Linked DNA regions of Homo sapiens. The protein of the gene in region 1 interacts with the protein of each later gene in a pairwise test. Each region holds a gene or a part of one and is shown on either strand. Other genes may lie near its edges.

Region 1 (5,445 bases):
TCAAAACTGCATGTCTGTCAGCCGGTGGAGGTTGCCCCTTCAGCATCTCAGACGCGATGTGGCCAGGACCCGGCGCTGGGTCTCACAAGCTGCCTCCTCTGCATCCTCCCCATCCTTCGCCCCTCCCCCAAGTCTGCCGTTCCTTTGTTCTGTCCCACAGCTCCTCCTCCCTGCCCCGCTCCCATGATCTCTTAGTTGTGGGGTTCTGTAGTATCTCTGTAGTATCTCTGTGGTGTCTCTAGCGGTCATCCTCACCTTACTGTCATCACCACAACTCCACTTCCTTTCCTGATCACCTCTCACTTTGACACTGATGTTAGCATTACCTTTTTTCACATGCGATCCCTATTTATTATGGAATATAATACCTGAGCCTTCTCCCTGGCTTTCCTCGCTGCTGGCCTCGCTGGCTCCAGCCCATTCTGCCACACTTCTGCCCAAGGAAGCTTCCTGAGCACAGTCCATCTTGCCCTATGACCTTCGATGTTAACTGCGTCCCCGCAGCTGTGCTGTGACCTGGTACCACAGGTGCTTCCATCTGCCTGCCGGGGCACCTCTCCTGGAGTCTGTTCCAGCCAGGCTGTGACCTGATGGTGCACCTGTCTCAGCAGCTTTCTCAGGCTGCTGCCATTGCTCAGAACTCTGTCACCCCTTTACCGCTTCTGGGAGTTCTGCCATCCTAAAGGTCCATCTCCAGTGTACATCCTCCAGGCAAGTTTCCTATCTCCAGATGGGCATGCTTTTTCTGGCCCTTGAAGCCCCTCCACTTGGCTCATCCTTCCCTTAAGGTATTTCACCTACCCTAGTTATCTGTGGGCCTTGGATGGGCAGCTAGAAGAGCAAGGGTCTGGAGAGAGACAGACCTTGTTTGAGTCCCAGCTTAAACTACCTTCTATCTATATGACCTTGGGTAAGCTATTCCCTCTCTGAGACTCAGTTTTCTCATCTGGAAAGTGGAAACTGATACAATACCATGACTTAGGTTCAGTTTTGGGGGGGATTCAAAAGATAAAATGTCTAGGTTTAGCACAGTTTTTGGAACATGATGAGAATTCAAAAGCAGCAGTTTAGGCCGGACGTGGTGGCTCACACCTTTAATCCCAGCACTTTGGGAGGCTGAGGCGGGTGGATCACCTGAGGTCAGGAGTTCAGGACCACCCTGGCCAACATGGTGAAACCCCGTCTCTAGTAAAAATACAAAAATTAGCTGGGCATGGTGGTGGGCGCCTGTAGTCCCAGCAACTCAGGAGGCTGAGGTGGGAGAATCACTTGAACCTGGGAAGCGGAGGTTGCAGTGAGCTGAGATCACACCACTGCACTCCAGCCTGGGTAACAAGAGCAAAACTGTCTCAAAAAAAAAACAAAAAGCAGCAGTTTTATAATTAGTATCCAGCCTTCCTGTGTCTGCCTCCTTGGGGTGATCCATGGAACCTAGCCTGTTCTTTGATGATGCTAAAGGCTGTTTGAGTCCAGGAGAATTGACTTGAACAGAACATAGGTCTGAGACCCTTCACCTGGCAGGAGATGAGGGCCATTGATAGTCGTGGTTCTGTATGATTTGCAAGATAGTCCTGCTACCTTGGGTTTGACAACTGAGGTAACTCCCCAGTTATCTCTTCCTCTGGATTTCAGCTTAGGAAGACTCTTTTATATCACCTGTTGGCATGGGAGAGGCCACTCCTGCAGGAAGCCAGGGTGCTTCTTTTGGAATGCTCAGGTCCTCAGAGGACATTGATTGAAAGGGAATTTTAGGGCAAACCCAATGAAGCTCAGGCAGCAGCTGAAAAACACACCAGATTCCCTTGACTCTTATCTGTCAAGGAAAGTCTGTTGGTGACCACCTAATATGTGGGGTAGGGTTGGTTACAGGCAGGATCTGGCATAAACAGGTAAAGTTGCAAGAGAAACATTTAGGTATCACCAGATTCCTCCCTTGCATTGTGGCAGGGCTGCACCTAAGAGCTGCTCCTAAAGGTTGAGCACCTTGTTCTTTTCCCCCAGTTGGATTAGGAGCTTTTAAGCACCAATACCCCCTCCCCAATAACAGTCTTTGCTGATTTTTCTCTTGCAGCCAGGCGGCACTCCAGGGTCCGGCCCAAGGTGACTGTCCTGAACTATGCCTCCCCGATAACCGCAGTCAGCCGGCCACTGAATGAGATGGTCTTGACCCCACTGACAGAGCAGGAGGGGGAAGCCTACCTGGAGAAGTGTGGCAGCGTGCGGCGGCACACGGTGGCCAATGCCCACTCGGACATCCAGCTGCTGGCCATGGCCACCATGATGCACTCGGGCCTGGGGGAGGAGGCCAGCAGTGAGAACAAGTGCCTGCTCCTGCCACCCAGCTTCCCCCCGCCCCACCGGCAGTGCTCCAGTGAGCCCAACATCACTGACAACCCTGACGGACTGGAGGAGGGGGCCAGGGGCAGCCAGGAGGGCTCGGAGCTGAACTGTGCTTCCCTCAGCTGAGTCGCCACCCCTGGGCCTTTCCATCTCCTGTTTTGCAACCAGGATGAGGACCCCTCCATCTCCGTGGATTACTGAGGGGGGCTCTTGCTTTATGCGATGCTGCCTTATTTCCTTTAGGGTACTGTCCTGGTCAAAATGACCTAAGGGGAAACCGTTGTTGTAAACCTCTTTATTTTGGTGACTGTGACCACTTCTTTGTAGCCACCAATTGTAGTGACCAGTTGCCTAATGGTCACTTTCTGACTCCAGCCTTGCCAGCCTGACTCAGATCCTCATCTCTGGGCCTTTCTCCCTCCGATGTTGGACTGCCTGATGCTCCCAATGACATATCCAATGCTCCTGGCATTTCTGGAGCAGGAGGTTGTCAGGACAACACATATAACCACCAAGGATGTGTTGGCCTTTGGAGTTCCCCTTTAGGTTCCTAGTGATGTGGAGGTTTATGGGTGAAAAATTAGTGGAGAGGGAACTCCTCTCCCCCATTTTGTGTAGAGTGAAAATAGCCTGAAGCCCCTACTCAGCAGGGCTCTGGGAATGTGCCTTCCTTATTTTAGTTTCAGAATTGCTGGGAAAGTTACCCCACTGGTGGGTGAGGATCTATCCTCAACCTACATCCAGATCCTATGTGCTGCTTGCACAGAGGCCTTTGGCTTTTGACCCAGGAGGGCCGCGAGGCTGGAGCTGCCCTGTCTTTCATTGAGCCTTAGCATTTCCCTCTCAGGCTTCCTCTCAAGCTCAAGGAACTCACCCCCAGATAAGAAGCTGGTGCCTCTTGTCTCTCTCATTTCAGAAACGGACTTTCTCATCATGCTTTCCTATGGTGGGTATGAGGGGCCAGCTGATACCAACCAACTGGCCTGTATCTATCTATCTGGATTTGACTTGAATTTTTAAAATGTGTATCGTTTAAAAAAAAAAATGTTTGCAAATTTTGCACATAGGATCTTGCACTGTTCATTTTCAGTGGGGTGAGTCTTCACACTAAAAACACAAGCAGAGCTCCTGGGAAAAGAGACTGGAAGTGGTTCAGGATAAAGAGATCCATGGTGGGCAGGGCTGTTAGGTCACAGAGCTCTAGAAGCAGCTGGACTTGAACCCACAATGGCTTGTGTAAATTCGTAAATTTCATGGTTTCTAGGAAAAGCTGCATTGGGGTGGGGAGACCCAGTTTGCCTCATAGGCAGAGGATTCTCCAGGAAGCATGGAAAATGGAATGTTTCCATGCTTTACAGTGCTGGGAGAGAGGGGAGATGTGGGCAGGACCTTTTGGAAGGATGTTTATTCTCTGTGGTTAAAGAAATGCTGAGAATTTCTAGCATGTGAAGCACTTGGGGGCAGCAGGCCTTGGCACGGTGCTGCATCCTTCTACTGCTCCCTCCAGGTCTGGGGGCTTTTATCCACCTTGAATCCCTATCCTCCTCTTTGTAGTTGTCGGTCTCACTGATAACAGCTCCAGAAAAAAAGACAAGGCTCCCCCTCTGACCCTTCCTGTTGGTATTTATGAAATCTCAAAGAGATGAGCCACCTTGGCTTCCAATATGGCAAGAGGGTGCTGGGAGAAGGTGAAGATCAGTCTAAGCTGCCACGGTGATGAGACCTTCTCATTATGTAACTCTTGATGGCATTTCCCTTCTGAGTGAAGATTTGAAATATGATTGATTAGAATTGTGCTCTTGATGGCTGGGAATTTAGAAATTTTATTTTAAGAGTTATTTCATTTTCATCCTAAGAGTGATGGGAGAGAAATGTCCAAAAGAGATCTGCTGATCTGCTGAGAGTTTCAAACAAACAAAAAAATAATCTCTATGTATGTGTTGGATAAAGTCTACAGACTGACTAACATGCATTAGCAAATGGAGCATCAGTAGGTAGCAACATGATAATTTATGTAACTGATAGCTTCTGTCCTTATTAGTACACTTAACATTTGAGACTAGTATTTATTGATCCAGGCAAAGTAATTAATTAATCATGCTTGGGCTTACTTTTTCAGTTTGTAAGGTTAAGCATATGTGCATGCGTGCGTGTGTATATAAATGCCTTTTCCATATCTTAAATGTCCCTGATGAGGAGAGCAGTCATCAATTAAATATATAAGCTCTTAAAATGAGAATGGAAGTGTCAGTATAGACCCAGTGTACTTAAGTGCTGATGACTGTTAGCCAGTTTACAACTTTTTACCATCGATGTACACATTTGATATTTGTGCAGTAAATAGACTGTACCTATAAAAAATTTTATTGATGTTTATGGTCATGTTAGCTATCAGAGAGCTATTGGAGTGAGAGCTGAGGTGTCCTTAACCACTTTTTCTCTCCTAGATTCATTTTCATTATTTATGCTAGGATTTTCTTATGGTTGACATTTGATGACAGGAAGCAATCATGACTCTTCAAGTGAGCTCACAGAAACCTTTCATGTTGTCTGTTTCCAAAATGGATTCAATAAACAACATTTTGTCCATGTTACCCTATTCTCATGCTGGGTGCCCCAGGGGTGTCTTGATCGAATTTGCAAGTATAGCAGTCAAATCAGATCTTTTTTTTTTTTCCTCAAATTAGATCTTGATGCATCTTTCCCTCAAACTCCCTGCCCCAACTTCTGCCTCCTCTTTTCTTGTTGCCTCTACTCCACAGTCAGACAGCAGCCTTAGCTCAGCCAGTCTTCCCTGGGTTTTGTTTGCAATCCTGGACTGGATTGGCAACTCATTTCCTGGAGAAACATATTGTGGAGCTAGAAAATACTGAAAAAAGTCTGAGAAGCCAATACTTTTTCTAAAACCAGCTTGGCCTTTCTTCCCAGAGTATTTGACCTAGAGGGAACAGTTACCATATGTACTCATGGATGATCTCATATATTCCCCTCTGATTCTGTTTGGCAGAGGAAATTTATGTTTTACTCTGCATAAATACTTCTAGGAGGCTTATAGCAGCAACAGTCTGAGACCGCTAAAGACTTAATAAGAGCCTTTGAAGAGGT
Region 2 (7,028 bases), on another chromosome or scaffold:
TTTTTTTCTTTTTTTTTGAGACGGAGTCTCACTCTGTCACCCAGGTTGGAGTACAGTGGCATGATCTCAGCTCACTGCAACCTCCACCTCCCAGGTTCAAGTGATTCTCCTGCCTCAGCTTCCTGAGTAGCTGGGACTACAAGTGTGCACCACCACAACCAGCTAATTTTTTTTTTTTTTTTGAGACGGAGTCTCGCTCTGTCGCCCAGGCTAGAGTGCAGTGGCATGATCTCGGCTCACTGCAAGCTCCGCCTCCCGGGTTCACGCCATTCTCCTGCCTCAGCCTCCCAAGTAGCTGGGACTACAGGCACCCGCCACCACACCCAGCTAAATTTTTTGTATTTTTAATAGAGACGGGGTTTCACCATGTTAGCCAGGAGGCCCGCCTCGGCCTCCCAAAGTGCTGGGATTACAAGCGTGAGCCACTGCGCCCGGCCTGTTTTTTTTTTTTTTTTTTTTTAATATTTTTGGTAGAGACAGGGTTTCACCATGTTGGCCAACGTGGTCTCGAACTCCTGACCTCAAGTCATCCGCCCGCCTTGGCCTCCCAAAGTGCTGGGATTAGAAGCATGAGCCACCATGCCCGGTCAGTTTTCCTTTTCTTCATAGGGGAAAATGCAGAAATGCTTCCTTAATTAAAATAAGTCTTATGAAAGCTTATCATTTTCACAGCCCCTAGGATGAATGAAATGTTTGCAAAAACAAAGGTAACTGAAAATCCAGAGGATGAAATCTCCAAATTCTAGGCCACCAGGAAAACTGTTGATTAGGAGCTTGAAAATAAGGAATGAATGAACTTATCTCTGAAAAGTGAGCCTGACCTCACTCCATTGTGGGAAGTATCCTCTTCCTCGGAATGCCAGCCTGAGCATTGTTCTTCCTCTGTCAACCCACCCACTCTACCACTTTACCCTGTAGAGCTCAAATACATGGAAACCAAAGAAAGTCTGCCTATCTAATACCCACTCCTCTATTCCCATCCCATGACACCATCTGCTGAGCCATACCACAGACACATACAACAAACACCAGGGGACAGGAAGGGCTAACCTCATACTTTGGAGCCTCAGTCCATGAGTCTAACTGAAAAGAGAAAGACAGTCCTCTGAAGTTGAGATGGAAGAGCTGCTCAGCGGAGTTGTACACTGTTGGGGGTGGGGGAGAAGAAAATAACATGGTTGACTGGCATCTGAAATGGCTAACATAAACCAGCCTGGCAGGGAGTAATGACTGACAACACCTTCCCTGTGGCTTGTTTCTAAACTGGCCTACTAGGTTGAAAACAAGGGGGAGGATGTTTCCTTCACACCCAAGTACCAACCCCACAATCCTATGGGAGCCTGACTCCAGGAAGTGGGGTGGGATGGCACTACCGGGCAGGTTTATTGCTATGAACTGCCACTGATGACCAGAGGAATCAGATGGACTTGGCTTACCTCCAGGATGGGTTGCGCCAAAAGACTGGTCAATCTGTTCAATGGTAGGAGCTATGGCCTGAGAATTAAAATGCACGCCACTGAAAAACAAAAATATTTTTTAATACTAGGCTTCACAAGATGGGCCCACAGATCATGTGAGATAGTAGCTGGGAGAGTTATTTTTAAGACACAGGCAGGTGAGTCTCTAATTATATCAAAATACAAAGCTTAATTAGAGAACTTTTAAATAAGAGCATTAATGAGGTCAGGAGAAGGTCAGTTCTCATGAGGCTGATATACAGAGTTGATCCTCTGGGGCTTTATGACACCAGTGACTCTTAAGAAAAGGGTAGAGAAGAGAAGCCACCAGACCCTGAGGTATGAAGGCCCCAGTAAAACTAAAAGACAACTAGAACCTGCAGGGGCCAGTGGTACCACACATTTGCTTGTCTACTCCTCTATCAGCAAAACTGCCTGAGCCTGCCCCAGGAATCAGGTCCTCTTCACACCCTCAAAAAGGGAAAGGGAAGCCAGTTAAGGAGACTTACTGAAAGGAGTATTCTATCGCTTGAACCCAGGAGGTGGAGGTTACAGTGAGCTGAGATGGCGCCACTGCACACCAGCCTGGGTGACAGAGAGAGACTCCGTCTCAAAAAAAAAAAAGAAAGAAAGAAAGAAAGGAAGGAGTATTCTAGATTTTTAGATGCAGGCATGCTGCCTTGCCATAATGGGGGCGCAACAACTTTGGACTGTGCATGTCATCCCCGCTGTAATTCTAAAAAATACATTATAGCTCTAAAATGGTGGTCTCTTTGGCATTCTCTTCAGCATAGGCTTTGGAGTCAGACCTATCTGGTTTGTCCCACCTCTGTTACTCATGAAAACATGAAAAGAGGTGCCAAGAGAGGCTGTCAGCGGGAGGGCAGCTATGACCCAGGAGACTGTCACATCACCTCTGAGCTGAGGTCTGGCTTTGTCAAGTGGATTAAGTTAGATGACATATACATGAAGTGTTAAACACATCACATATTCTTAATGAGGTTTACTTCTCTTCTCCAGGAAACTGAGCAGGCTTGAAGGTTGCCTCAGGAATTCATGGCACCAGGCTATAATTCACATCTGTGACAGATGTGAATCTTTACTAACTTATGAAGATAGTAGATATGGCCTGTCTATACCAAGTGTGACATATACCAGCAGGGGAGAAAACTTACCAATATTTTAACTTTACTTTAGTCAAATCACATACTTCGATCACCTAAAAAAAAGTTTAAGAGTTGTCAATGCTCTGAAAGTGATGACAGACTAAAAATGATTAAAAATACATTTATAGAATAAATAGTAAAAAAAAAAAAAAAAAAAACTATTACCAATAGAAATTTTATGGAAGCACTGCATGTTATCTTTTGTTCTCATTTAAAATTTTTTTAAAAACTTTTTGTAGAGATAGAATCTTAGCAAAACTAAAAAACTATGTTGCCCAGGCTGGTCTCAAACTCCTGGGCTCAAATGATCCTCCTGTCTTAGCCTCCCAAAGTGCTGGGATTACAAGCATGAGCCACCATGACAGTCCTTTGTTATTTTGAAACCAGGGAAAAAACCAGTTTCCCCTTCAGCATAACCATAGCCAGTGTCCCCTTCAGCATAACCTCTTAGCTTCCCTCTCCTAGTGGACTGCTCAACAGATGTCCATGGATGCTCTGGGTCAAGGCTCTTACATGCAGTCCACTTCTGGGTCAGGCTGGAGCACACACCACCCTATAGGACAATGATCTCTTCCACAGACATGAAGCTTGTTAAGGCTCTGCTTTGGGCACTAAGCCCCCTTCCTCCCATCTCATATTTTGCTGCATTTTAAAACCCAGGTCGGGTTGCTTTAGAAAATAGCTTATTTTAGCCGGGCACGGTGGCTCACGCCTATAATCCCAGCACTTTGGGAGGCCCAGGTAGGTGGATCTCCTGAGGTCAGGAGTTCCAGACCAGCCTGACCAACATGGTGAAATCCTGTCTCTACCAAAAATACAAAAATTAGCTGGGCGTGGTGGCACACACCTGTAATCCCAGCTACTGTGGAGGCTGAGGCAGGAGAACCGCTTGAACCCAGGAGTTGGAGGTAGCAGTGAGCTGAGATTGCGCCACTGCACTCCAGCCTGGGTGACAGAGCGAGACTCCGTCTCAAAAAAAAAAAAAAAAAAAAGGCCGGGCACGGTGGCTCACGCCTATAATCCCAGCACTTTGGGAGGCCGAGGCGGGCGGATCACAAGGTCAGGAGATTGAGACCATCCTGGCTAACACGGTGAAACCGTGTCTCTACTGAAAAATACAAAAAATTAGCCAGGCGTGGTGGTGGGCGCCTGTAGTCCCAGCTACTGAGGAGGCTGAGGCAGGAGAATGGCGTGAACCCGGGAGGCAGAGCTTGCAGTGAGCGGAGATTGCGCCACTGCACCCCAGCCTGGGCGACAGAGCGAGACTCCTCCAAAAGAAAGAAAGAAAGAAAGAAAATAGCTTATTTTGAAGTTGATTTTGTTTACAAAACAAAAAGATGGAGGGGGAGGTCTATCCCATTAGAAAGCAAGCCATAATATTTGTCACACAAGTGTGACAGTATTCAGTTATGTCCCTGATGAAGAGGATCTGGTTGAAACAAGAAAGCCTCAGGACCTTTGTGAAGCTTGCTCTTTAATGGGTTCAGCCTCAGATGAAATTCTAAGAACTCAGGGCAGGGCAGAGATAAAGGAATAGGCATCACCTAACACTCCGCCATCAGTGGTGCCAAGTAATAAGCACTATGAAGTCCTCCATGCAATGGTGTCAAGGGCTTGGCAGCCAGCAGCACAGGTAGGGGCTCGGAGCACCATCTACCATCCTCCAGCTGGGAGGTTTTGCTCTCATTGTGGAGACACAAGCAGAGCTGGCTCAATATCTGTTTGTCCTGCCAATCTGAGCCTGATTGTGGAAGAGGCTGTGGGGCATTGTATGCAGGAACATCTGGCACTGCCAAAGAAACTGAGACATAATAGATAGTAGGTTCGCTTTTGGCCAGAGACCCTATCCCTAACTTTATTTAGAGACCACAACACTGAACCAAATTGGATACCTCTTGACTATAATGTAGCTCTTTTGATCCTATCTGCTAGAAAGAACTGCTCCCTCTGCTAGGCCGTCACAGCACTGGAATGAATCCTTTCCTCCATACTTGTGTATTCTGTTAAGTGGTCCAATAAGTTAAGCCCCTTGAGGGACTCATTAATTTGCATAGGGAAGGTGTTCAATTCATGTTAGGCAATTCTGCCTGGTATGAAGCTTGAAAGCATGAAAAGAAGTGCCAGGAGGGGCTGTGGAAGGAAGGGCAGGGGAACAGCTATGATTCAGAAGATAGCCAGTGTCCCCTTCAGAATATCTGGGCATGGGAATATATCATGCCAAACTGGCATGCCATTTCACTGAGGCCAGAGCCTTGTCTAGCAGAGAGCCTCTACCTTCAGCCAGAAGCCCTCCTGTTCATAGCAGGCACAGGCACTCACCTCCCTCACTTCTATCCCTACAGCTGGCCAGTCATCCCCCAAAGCTTCCCACCACCCGCCCTGTGGAAGTGAGCCTGCACGATGTTCCTCCTGTATCACTGGCACCCCACCTGCCAACAGCTATACGGGTCCAACACATATAGGTGCTTCGACCCTGCCTGATCAATGGGAAAACAGTGGACCAGAGCTAATCACAGGGCACGAAGCAGCACTTGTGGCAATGGACCCAGAGTGCTGGCCATCCTGGAGTCCTTCATGTCACTAGGAGCATCAATAAGCAGATTTCATCTCTTGGAGCTTGCTGCACTACAGGGACAAGCAGCTGGGAAGGCTAAAGCCCATGATTTTCCATCTCTGGGCTACAGAAGCTCCTGATTTCCCCAGAGGGGAAGAGATGTGGCAGCAGCCAAGATAAAAATGGAAAAGACAGGTGGCTGTAAAGGTTGTGACTTATAAAGCCTCATTCCACAGGGCTGTCTCTCTTAGGCTTGAGGCAGGGGGTGGGAAGCAACTATAGGAGGCAGCATCAGAAGAGGTGGATTCTGAAGGTGTTGGATGGAAGGGCAGGAAGATAGGTCAGGTCAGGCTGGTGCCAATCAAAAACACCTGGGTGATTACTTGCTCAGTTTCCAGAAGACTCAGGCAGGACCCCAGTCTCTCCTTCATGGGGATCCCACAGAAGGCAGAAGAGGATTGCCGGTTTGATTTTATCTCCTTTCCTATCCAAAGGTACCTCCCATTCCTCATATTTCTGTACATTTCTTCAGCTTTTCTTATTTATTTCCCAGATCCATCAACAGAGCCTAAGTGGTCAGCCACCACATATTGCCAATATCCAGTTAAAAGCCTGGCATCAGGTAGACTACTTATCCTCTCTGTCCCTCGGTTTTCTTGCTAGTAAACAGTACCTACTTCACAGGCGGGTTAGGATTAAACTAGAAAACGCATGTGAAACACCCAGCCATGTGCCTAGCATATACTAAGCACTCACTAAACATATGACATTGTCTTCACCATGCTGTGATTTTATGGGCTGCTGGACATCCCTTTTGTTGCCCATTTAGGTTACTTCCAGCTTCTCATTACCATGAAATACCGTTACCTTCCCCCAGTGTTTCTGGGTTACATTTTCTAAAGTGGACTTTTACCAAGTCAAAGGGAAATGACTACTTGTAAAGAAATTTCCATGTTACCAGATTAATTTCCCCCCAATTTTTTTTTTTTGAGACGGAGTCTTGCTCTGTTGCCCAGGCTGGAGTGCAGTGGTGCGATCTCAGCTCACTGCAAACTCTGCCTCCCGGGTTCACGCCATTCTCCTGCCTCAGCCTCCCAAGTAGCTGGGACTACAGGCGCCTGCCACCATGCCCAGCTAATTTTTTGTATTTTTAGTAGAGACGGGGTTTCACCGTGTTAGCCAGGATGGTCTCGATCTCCTGACCTCGTGATCCACCCGCCTCAGCCTCCCAAAGTGCTGGGATTACAGGCGTGAGCCACTGCACCCGGCTCCAATTTGTGATTATGCGATATTGAAGATCATCCTCTGCCCTTTCCCAGTGTGGAACTTCTGGCCATGGAGACAGGATAGAATGAGGAATTCTAATTCCACATACTGATTCTCTTTCCATGTTTTGTTTTCTCTCCTTAGCAGTTCACTTGTGACAAGGATGATGAGAACTGGTAAGTACCCAAGTCTTTTGGAAAGGCTACTCCATAACCCAAGAAGGACAACAACTCTGGCATGCCACTGCCCAGGGCCCATCCAACCTCATGACTTTGAGGCATGACTCTGGTGTCACATGACTAACCTGTGAGGCCCAGGCATTTGTAAACAGGGTATATCAAAAACAGACTGAACTGGGTGCGGTGGCTCATGCCTGTAATCCCAGCACTTTGGGAGGCCGAGGCGGGCGGATCACGAGGTCAAGAGATCAAGACCAGCCTGGCCAACATGGTGAAACAAAAAATTAGCTGGGCGTAGTGGCACGCACCTGTAGTCCCAGCTACTGAGGAGGCTGAGGCAGGAGAATTGCTTAAACCCGGGAGGCAGAGGTTGCAGTGAGCCAAGATTGCACCACTTCACGCCAGC
Region 3 (7,991 bases), on another chromosome or scaffold:
GGCACCCGCAACCACGCCCAGCTAATTTTTGTATTTTTAGTAGAGACGGAGTTTCACCATGTTGACCAGGATGGTCTCAATCTCCTGACCTCGTGAGCTGCCCACCTCGGCCTCCCAAAGTGCTGGGATTACAAGTCTGAGCCACTGCGCCCAGCTGGTAATTTCTTTTAAGGTTAAACATGCACTTGCACACGGCCCAAGAATTCCATTCCTAGATGTGTAACCAAAAGAAATGAAAACATATGTCTACACAAAGACTTGCACCTTAATGTACAAAGAACAGCACATGAATGTTTACAGTACCTTCATTCCTAAATGCCAAAAATTGTTCATCAAATGGCGAATAAACATACTATGATATATTCACACAATGAAATACTACTCAGCTGTAAAAAACAACCAAGCATCAACAAACATGCATCAACATGGATGAATCAAAGCATTAAGTGAAAGAAACCTGAAACATAAGGCTACATACTGTATGATTCCATTTACATAACATACCAGAAAAGACAAAGCTATAGACAGGGACAGAGAACAGATCAGTGGTTGCTAGGACCTATGAGTGAGGGGAGGAAACTTTAGAATGATGGGAATATTATTTGTCTGGATTGTGGCAGTGGTTCCATTATATGCATTTGTCAGACTTTATACAGCAATATAATAAAAATTACTTTTTTACTTATAAATCATACCTCAATAAAACTTGATTTTTTTTAAAAAAAGCAACATATGCCCTTTTTAAAAATATGCATCAGTTTAAATGAGCTAAACCAAACTTACTGGGTATGGGAATAGGGCAGGGAGGAACAGTAAGGAGACCAAAAATCCTTAAAATACTGGAAATCTAAAATATTAATTTATCGTTAGTAAATAAGAAACAGATATACATAAACACCAAGAGTTAATCCAAAGAGAGATGCCTTTTTCAATTAAGTTCTCATTGTTTGGACAGAAAATAAGAAAATTTGATAAACTTTCAAGGAAGATTAAAAATCACAAGGAACAGGTTGACAAAGGAGTGCTGTAATTATGACCTACAGTTTGGGAACAACTTATCTAAAACATTCCCCTTCCATTTTACTTAATGGAACCAGTCTTATCCACCCATCCACTCTACTCCACTCCCACTCCGTCTTCTACTATCTTCATTCATAACAATCATATGTAATGCATACATCTGACACATATAGATAAGAGTACAACATAAAATGCCTATTACACCAAATTCCTGTTTGTCCATTTAAGCTCCAGACAAGCTCATTTTTAAACGTCTTTTTTCTCTATTTTAATGCCACCCAAAACCAAAGTGATGTCCCTCTGGAATGATTTTCTGCAGTTTCTTTTGTGTGTTATTAAGTACTAAGATGATCAAAATAAACAAAAATGTCTCAGAAGTTTTGAGTGGATCACTCCAATAAGAAGCTACATTTTTCCATTTAATAAAAGTTAAGAGGTAAGTTGTAACTTTCATCACTTTGTTTTCTTTATGTTTATTCCATTGGGCTTATACTGTTGCTAGGAAACCAGTTCATAAGATTTCCCAGCCCACAGAACACCCTCCTAGGCAGCCTGGAGGATACCAAACTTCGTAACCAGGGCAATTCTCTACCACACAGTTTACTGGTTAGCCAACACCATGCAGGTGCACTCTGCCTGGCATGACCCTTACTACATTTACCTAATAGGTACAGACAGTATAACCAATCCCCTCAACGCAATAGAAATTGTAGCAGAGGGCAATCAGGTGATCATTAAGTGTAGAACTCTCCGACAGCAGGGAACACAACAGCGAATTTGTTGTCAGTCCCTGTCACCCCACCCAACTAAATATTGTGGGGGGGGGAAGGGTTGCCTTAAATTGTGAAGTAAAATGTCAGCCCACTCCAATAACTCCACCACGCAACATGCAAACTGCTTCCAAAAACCATCATCCAACTCCCACCCGGATTAATATTTGGAGAGAAAGGTGGCATCAGTATCCGCACAGCTGAGAGGGGAGGGAAGGAAAGAGTCAGAATTCATAAGGGGCCGCTGAGTCACCTAAAATTGTGGCCAAGACTTTACCCTCCAGGAAATCGAGCTCTGCCCCAACTCTCATCAAGGAAGCAAGTGAGAGTAGCAGCAGCAACATCATCCTACCAAAAAAACACCAGCGCAGCTTTTAATAGAGTTCCACTCCTTAAAGTGAAGCCAAAAATAGGTTTCATGTCCAAAGCTTTCCTCCGCAGTAGGCGACACGCGCAGATGGAGAAAATATCTTTATTGTTGGGAAAGGGAGGCGTGCTAACGGGGACGAAGGATACCTCACCACTTGGCAAAGTTACTGGCTCCTGCCTTGACCCTGAAATGCCACTTTTATTGCAACATGTGGCCCAAGAAACTCTAAGGAAATGTGGCTGGCAGACGCTGTAGAGCTTTTACCCCAATGTACTTGGCAAAGTAAAAGGGGATACATAAACCAGGCGCGTTCTGTGTAATCTAAGCAAGAATCAAGGTCTCCGTTCGGTAGGCGCTTCGGTGACACAATAATCACGTGTTCGTGGGCGTAGACTTTCGAAAACACTCGATTCTGGGACGTGCAGATACCGGTACCCACCGGCGAGCGCAGGAACGAGTGGGCACTCCCACCCCCGGGAGCTGGCTCCGTTCCCGCAGGAGGTTGGTCACGCCCCCTGACTCCTGGTCGCTGCGACAGCCAAGGGCGAGGCCGCAGCAGGCGGGCTGCAGGCGGCGGAAGCTCGTCCGCGCTCCTCCCCCGGTGGGGCGCTCTCCGCTCGCCTCGCGCGGCCCCGACCCCAAGACCCAGGCCCCGGAAGGCGAGCGTTCACTTACCTGCTCCCCTCTCTCGCTCTCCGCTGCCGCCGCTGCGCCGCTCACCCACGCTGCCCGGTGAGCCACCCCCAGCACACAGACCCCTACGCGTACACCCGAGGCACGGCCCCAGGCCCTTGAGGGGAGACCGCGGCCCAGCCACACAGGTTGGGGTAGCCCACGCACCACCCGGCTTCGAACACCTCTGCCCCCGGAAGTTGATTTCCGCCAAGGCCCGCCCAACACAGCGCCCGTCACTCAACGTAAACACGCGCGTCACGTGGCCCCAGGCCGAGGCCCGGGTCGGGGCCCCATGTTCAGAGCCCTGCCACCCCAGCTTGAGCGTGGTCTTTGGAGCGTTGCCCTGTGAAAAGGGGTGACTTTGCCATGCTCCTTCCCAGTCTACCTCCTGTTAGTTACAGTTTCTCATTCCTCTTGAGTAGCAGGCCCTGTTTCTCCACCTAATCCCTGCAAGTAAACCGTCCCCCAAATCAAAATGAGTTCCATCTGGAACTTTGTAGGATTGGTCCTAAGAAGATCCCGCCGAATCTCTTCACCACTTCCTAGCAGAGCACAGTAAAACCGGGGACTAAGCAAAGTGGCTGACATGTAGTAAGTGCTCAAGAAATGGATGTTGACTAGATGCTACCTCTCATCTTTGCCTGTCTGAACTCTCAAGCACCGGATGCAAGTAGACTGAGAGCCTCCGCCAACCAGTAAGATGACTTTGGTCAAAGAATTCTGCTCTAGAGTTACTTTTGTTCTTGTCTTCAACTCCAGATCACAGCAATTCATACGTGCCATCTCTGTTGCAGAGTTTTCTTGCAAAGCCTTTCTTAAAAGCTTTCTGTCAAATAGCTTGTCCTGAAGCAATAGGAAAAGAATAGCGTAATTCACAGATTATTTATTTGAAAGGAAGGAATGATTATATAGATGTCTTTGTCCATTTCAGACTGTCAATAGCGATGAGAGAAACAGTCAACTAGCAGTCCACTCGTGAATGTTTCTTCTGTTTTTGCCATGGAAGGATTTTGAAGAACATTCATTCAACAAATTTTTATTGATTGTATACCACATACCTAGTCCTGGGCCAAGTTTTGACAATTCAAGAGTGAGCAAGGTAACACTCAAGATATTTGTCTTCAAGAAGCTTACAGTCTAGTGAGAAAGAAAGACACTAACCTGGGGACTTTGAGCATAAATCTCTGGAATATTCACATTCCTTGTATAACAAGTATTCTTTCATCCTTGGACACTGGGTTTCTCATCTGTTGAACAAAATTGGCTTAAACCTGTAATCTCTGTTCTGTACTGGAAGTGGAAAATATTAGCAAGGCATCCTGACAAGTCTGCCATAAGTGCTGGCCTAAGTAGTTAATGAGCAGTTTCAGTATTGAGCAAGTCACCTTGACTACATTCTTTTTCCAGCCCACCCCCTTCTTTATGCATACAAAAAACATTTCTATTGTAAGAAATGTAATGCTTTCTTACACATATTTTTTTATCTGTCTACTAGACTACCAAGTCAAGGACCACTTCTCACTTGTATATCCAGCAATCTACTCACTTCTCATTTGTCTTTGTGTATCCAGCAGTCTAGCAAAGTGTCTAGTAGTTAGAAAAAAGGTATTCATAAATATTTCTTAAACTTAGTAAGGTTACCTTTATATTATTTTGTCTCTCATATCTCTTTCTGCTGGAAACCAGATTAGTTTCTGGGAGTTCCTTCCCATTGATGTACTTACATGTTCACTCTGTCCCGATATTCAATACTAAACTGTATTCCATACTAAACAGATTTATAATAAGTAACTAATATTTATTATTAATATTTGCTATGTGCCTGGCATTAGATTAAATATTTTAAATCCCATATATAACTTACCACAATAATTTTACAAAGTAGGTATATTAATATATTTACACTTTAGATGAGGTTACAGATTTAGGAAGTGTAAATTGACCAAGTGGATTTAAAGCCAGATCTGCCCAACAGAAGGGCTTGTTTATTCACTATAGCACATCACTTTGCTTTTTATATCACTTATTTATCAGTGAATTCAAATCCTACCAACTCCATGAAATCTTTCTTCCTTCCCCACAGTAATCTTTTTCTTTATAAACAATTCAGTGATTTTAGTATATTCACAGAGTTATGCATGCTTTACCACATTCGATTTTAGAGTATTTTCACAGCCCCAAAAAGAAACCCCATACCCTTTGGCCCCAACTTCTCCCTCCTCTCCCCAGCCCTAGGCAACCAGTAATCCACTTTCCGTCTGTATGCATTTGTCTATCTTGAACATTTCATATAAATGGAATCATGCAATGTGTGGTCTTTTGTGACTGGCTTCTTTCACTTAACATGTTTTCAAAGTCCCTTCATCGGTTGGGTTGTTTCAGCTTTTTGAATATTATGAATAATGCTCCTGTTGACATTCATGTACAAGTTTTCGTGTCAACATATGTTCTCATTTCTCTTGGATATATACCTAAGAGTGGAATTGCGGGGTCATATGGTAACTCTATGTTTAACCCCTTGTGGAACTACCACACTGTTTTCCAAAGTGGCTGTACCATTTTACTTTCTCACCAGCAATGTATGAGGGCTCTAATTTCTCTATTGTGCCTTTTCTTGTCTCTCTAGAACATGTGCCTCTCTTACTTTTCAGAATACTTTTTCCATGAGCCATCTTCAATTATTATTCTTTGTTGTACATGTATCTGCAAGCCCATTTTCCTAATAGTTTGTGACCTTCTGAGATGAAAAACATGGTGCCTGCCCTTAAGAGAATCACATCTAGAAAAATATACAATCAAATCAGATATTACAGTGATAATAAACACTGAAATAAAGGTTATTGCTAAAAGGTGGAGAAAGAACACCTCACTCAGCCTAGGTTAAACAGGAAGTACTTCTCATAGAATGTATCAAAGCTCAGGATTAGTCCTGAAGAATCTATTGGAATTGACCAAGCTAAGGAAAGACATGAGTATGCTCCAGAAAAAGGAACATATACCTTTGTATATATTTCCTTGTCTATGAACTGTGGAGGTAAGTATATTTTGCAGGTAAGCATACCATAGAAGCAAACATTGTGGTATGCAGGTATGCAGCAGGAGAAATGGGAAATGTAGATGTAAGATGATGAAGAGTTTTGTAAACTGTGTTAAGGAGTTTGAACTGTATCCTGAAGGTAATGGGAAATTGCTGAATTAGTTAAGCAAGGTTGGAGAAGAATTACTTCAGCAGCAGTATAGAGGAAGGATTATTGGGTAGGAGAGACGGGGCCAAGACTAGAAAAACAAACAAACCAGATAGAAGACATAAAATAACTAAAATGAGGAATTAATGACTGCCTGAGCCGAGATGGTACCCATGAAATTGGCAGAAAGGATTTTAAAGGCACATGGCCAACAAAAAAGGAGGAAAGAAGCCAGTCACGGTGGCTTATACGTGTAACCCCAGCAATGTGGGAGGCTGAGGTAGGAGGATCACTGGAGCCTGGGAGGTGGAGGCTGCAGTGAGCTGTGATTGTGCCACTGCATTCCAGCTGGATGACAGAGCAAGACCCTTTCAAAAAAAAAAAAAAAAGGAGGAGTAAGAAGAAGAAGAAAGAATTGAAGATATATTCCAGGTTTCTGGCTGTAGTCATCAAGAGGAAGATTGGGCACTTGGTGATAAGAATAATGAAACACTACAATGATGGTATCTTAGTTTGTTCAGGCTGCTATAGAAAAATACTGGGTAGCTTATGAATGCAAATTTATTTCTCACAGGTCTGGAGTCTAAGAAGTTCAAGATTAAGACACCAGCAGATTGGATGTCTAGTGGGGCCCTGCTTTCTGGGTCATAGATTGTGCCTTCTAGCTGTGTCCTCATGTGGTGGAAGAGACAGGGCGGCTCTCTGGAGCCTCTTTTATAAGGGCAGTAATCCTAGTCATGAGGCTTGTGTCCTCATGATTTAATCACCTCCCAAAGGCCCCACCTCCTAACGCTATCTCATTGGTGATTAAGTTTAACATATGAATTGTGGGGGGACAAAAACATTCAGACCACAGCAGATAGGTTGCAGGAATTTAAACTGCCATTGAAGTTTATGTGCTGTTGCAGTCACCCACAGAAATGAGATGAACCCTCACCCAAACTTTGGCTCCTATTTCAAGACTTAGCATACCACATATGCACCAACAGGGTATAAAAAGGTTTATTACTCACATAATGAGCCTTTCTAGGAAGAGTACAGCAGACCTCCTAAGCAGGTTTTAAAATGACTTGAGAGAGTAGGAGAAAAAGCTATTGGGATTTTTTTCATGGCTAGGACATGGCGCTTGGGTGAAAAAGCCCACACAGGGCAGGGACTGTATGGCTCAAATTTTCCACCAGCACCAAAATAGGAAATACCTATTTTGCACCATATTTGGATCTAGGCAAGCTTTCTCATCAAGTTGCCTAGATTCAGATATCATACAAAAGGGAACAGGTGAGGAGCCGGACTTAAAACTTGTTAAGAATCAAACATAAAAAATTATGTCAGACACAATTACATATTCTTAGATCTAGTTTAACTGCAACTAACAATATAGTTGTTACATATATATATGCTTTGAAAGTGATTATCATGGACACTGTAGTTGCAATCCCAACATTTATTCCACTCTTCCCACATTGTGCATAGTACACCTAAGAAATTGAGGTGAAATTAACCTCACCTTTATCTCCAAAGTTAGTCCAGTTAAGATAACCCAATCCCAACCTACGTTGTTCCCCTGGCCACAAGATGTTGTTCAGGGTTGAGCAAATTGGCACCAATTACAGGACTTTAGCCCCAAAATTGTGGGCTGTGGCTCCTTTCTCTCCCTTGATAAATGAGAAAGCATGTGGTTCTTGTTACTGAGGGCAGTCATCTTGTAACCAAGAAAATAAAAAAGCTGGAACCCTGATCAAATAAGCAAAGATTTATAACTTTGTATATAAGAAGAAGGACATAAACAGTAAACTGTGAAGGTTTTAAATAAACACTTTTCTGCCTCCTTCCTTTTAATCTACTGGTTTCTTCTGTTATGGCAGCTTTTAGGTCAAATTAATACAGAGCTTGATTTTTCTACTTACCCTCACTGGTACTGAATATTAGTTAAGTCAGTTTAAATTTGTTATTATTATACTTCACCTTAAA

The links. The genes of interacting proteins can lie anywhere in the genome.
Region 2: the proteins of PRR5L (region 1) and PHAF1 interact in binary tests that used the Homo sapiens proteins (3 or more experiments, as listed by UniProt).
Region 3: the proteins of PRR5L (region 1) and CCDC91 interact in binary tests that used the Homo sapiens proteins (3 or more experiments, as listed by UniProt).

What each region holds. Positions count from the first base shown.
Region 1 is NC_000011.10:36,460,271-36,465,715, forward strand, and holds the end of PRR5L (proline-rich protein 5-like), read left to right. Parts: intron 1-2,071; coding exon 2,072-2,466; 3' UTR 2,467-4,934; downstream 4,935-5,445. UniProt on the Homo sapiens protein: Associates with the mTORC2 complex that regulates cellular processes including survival and organization of the cytoskeleton.
Region 2 is NC_000016.10:67,126,934-67,133,961, reverse strand, and holds part of PHAF1 (phagosome assembly factor 1), read right to left. Parts: intron 2,677-7,028; coding exon 2,633-2,676; intron 1,517-2,632; coding exon 1,437-1,516; coding exon of another isoform or gene 1,146-1,436; coding exon 1,051-1,145; intron 1-1,050. UniProt on the Homo sapiens protein: Plays a regulatory role in autophagic activity. In complex with BCAS3, associates with the autophagosome formation site during both non-selective and selective autophagy.
Region 3 is NC_000012.12:28,185,486-28,193,476, reverse strand, and holds the start of CCDC91 (coiled-coil domain-containing protein 91), read right to left. Parts: upstream 3,022-7,991; 5' UTR 2,836-3,021; exon of another isoform or gene 2,739-2,835; intron 1-2,738. UniProt on the Homo sapiens protein: Involved in the regulation of membrane traffic through the trans-Golgi network (TGN). Functions in close cooperation with the GGAs in the sorting of hydrolases to lysosomes.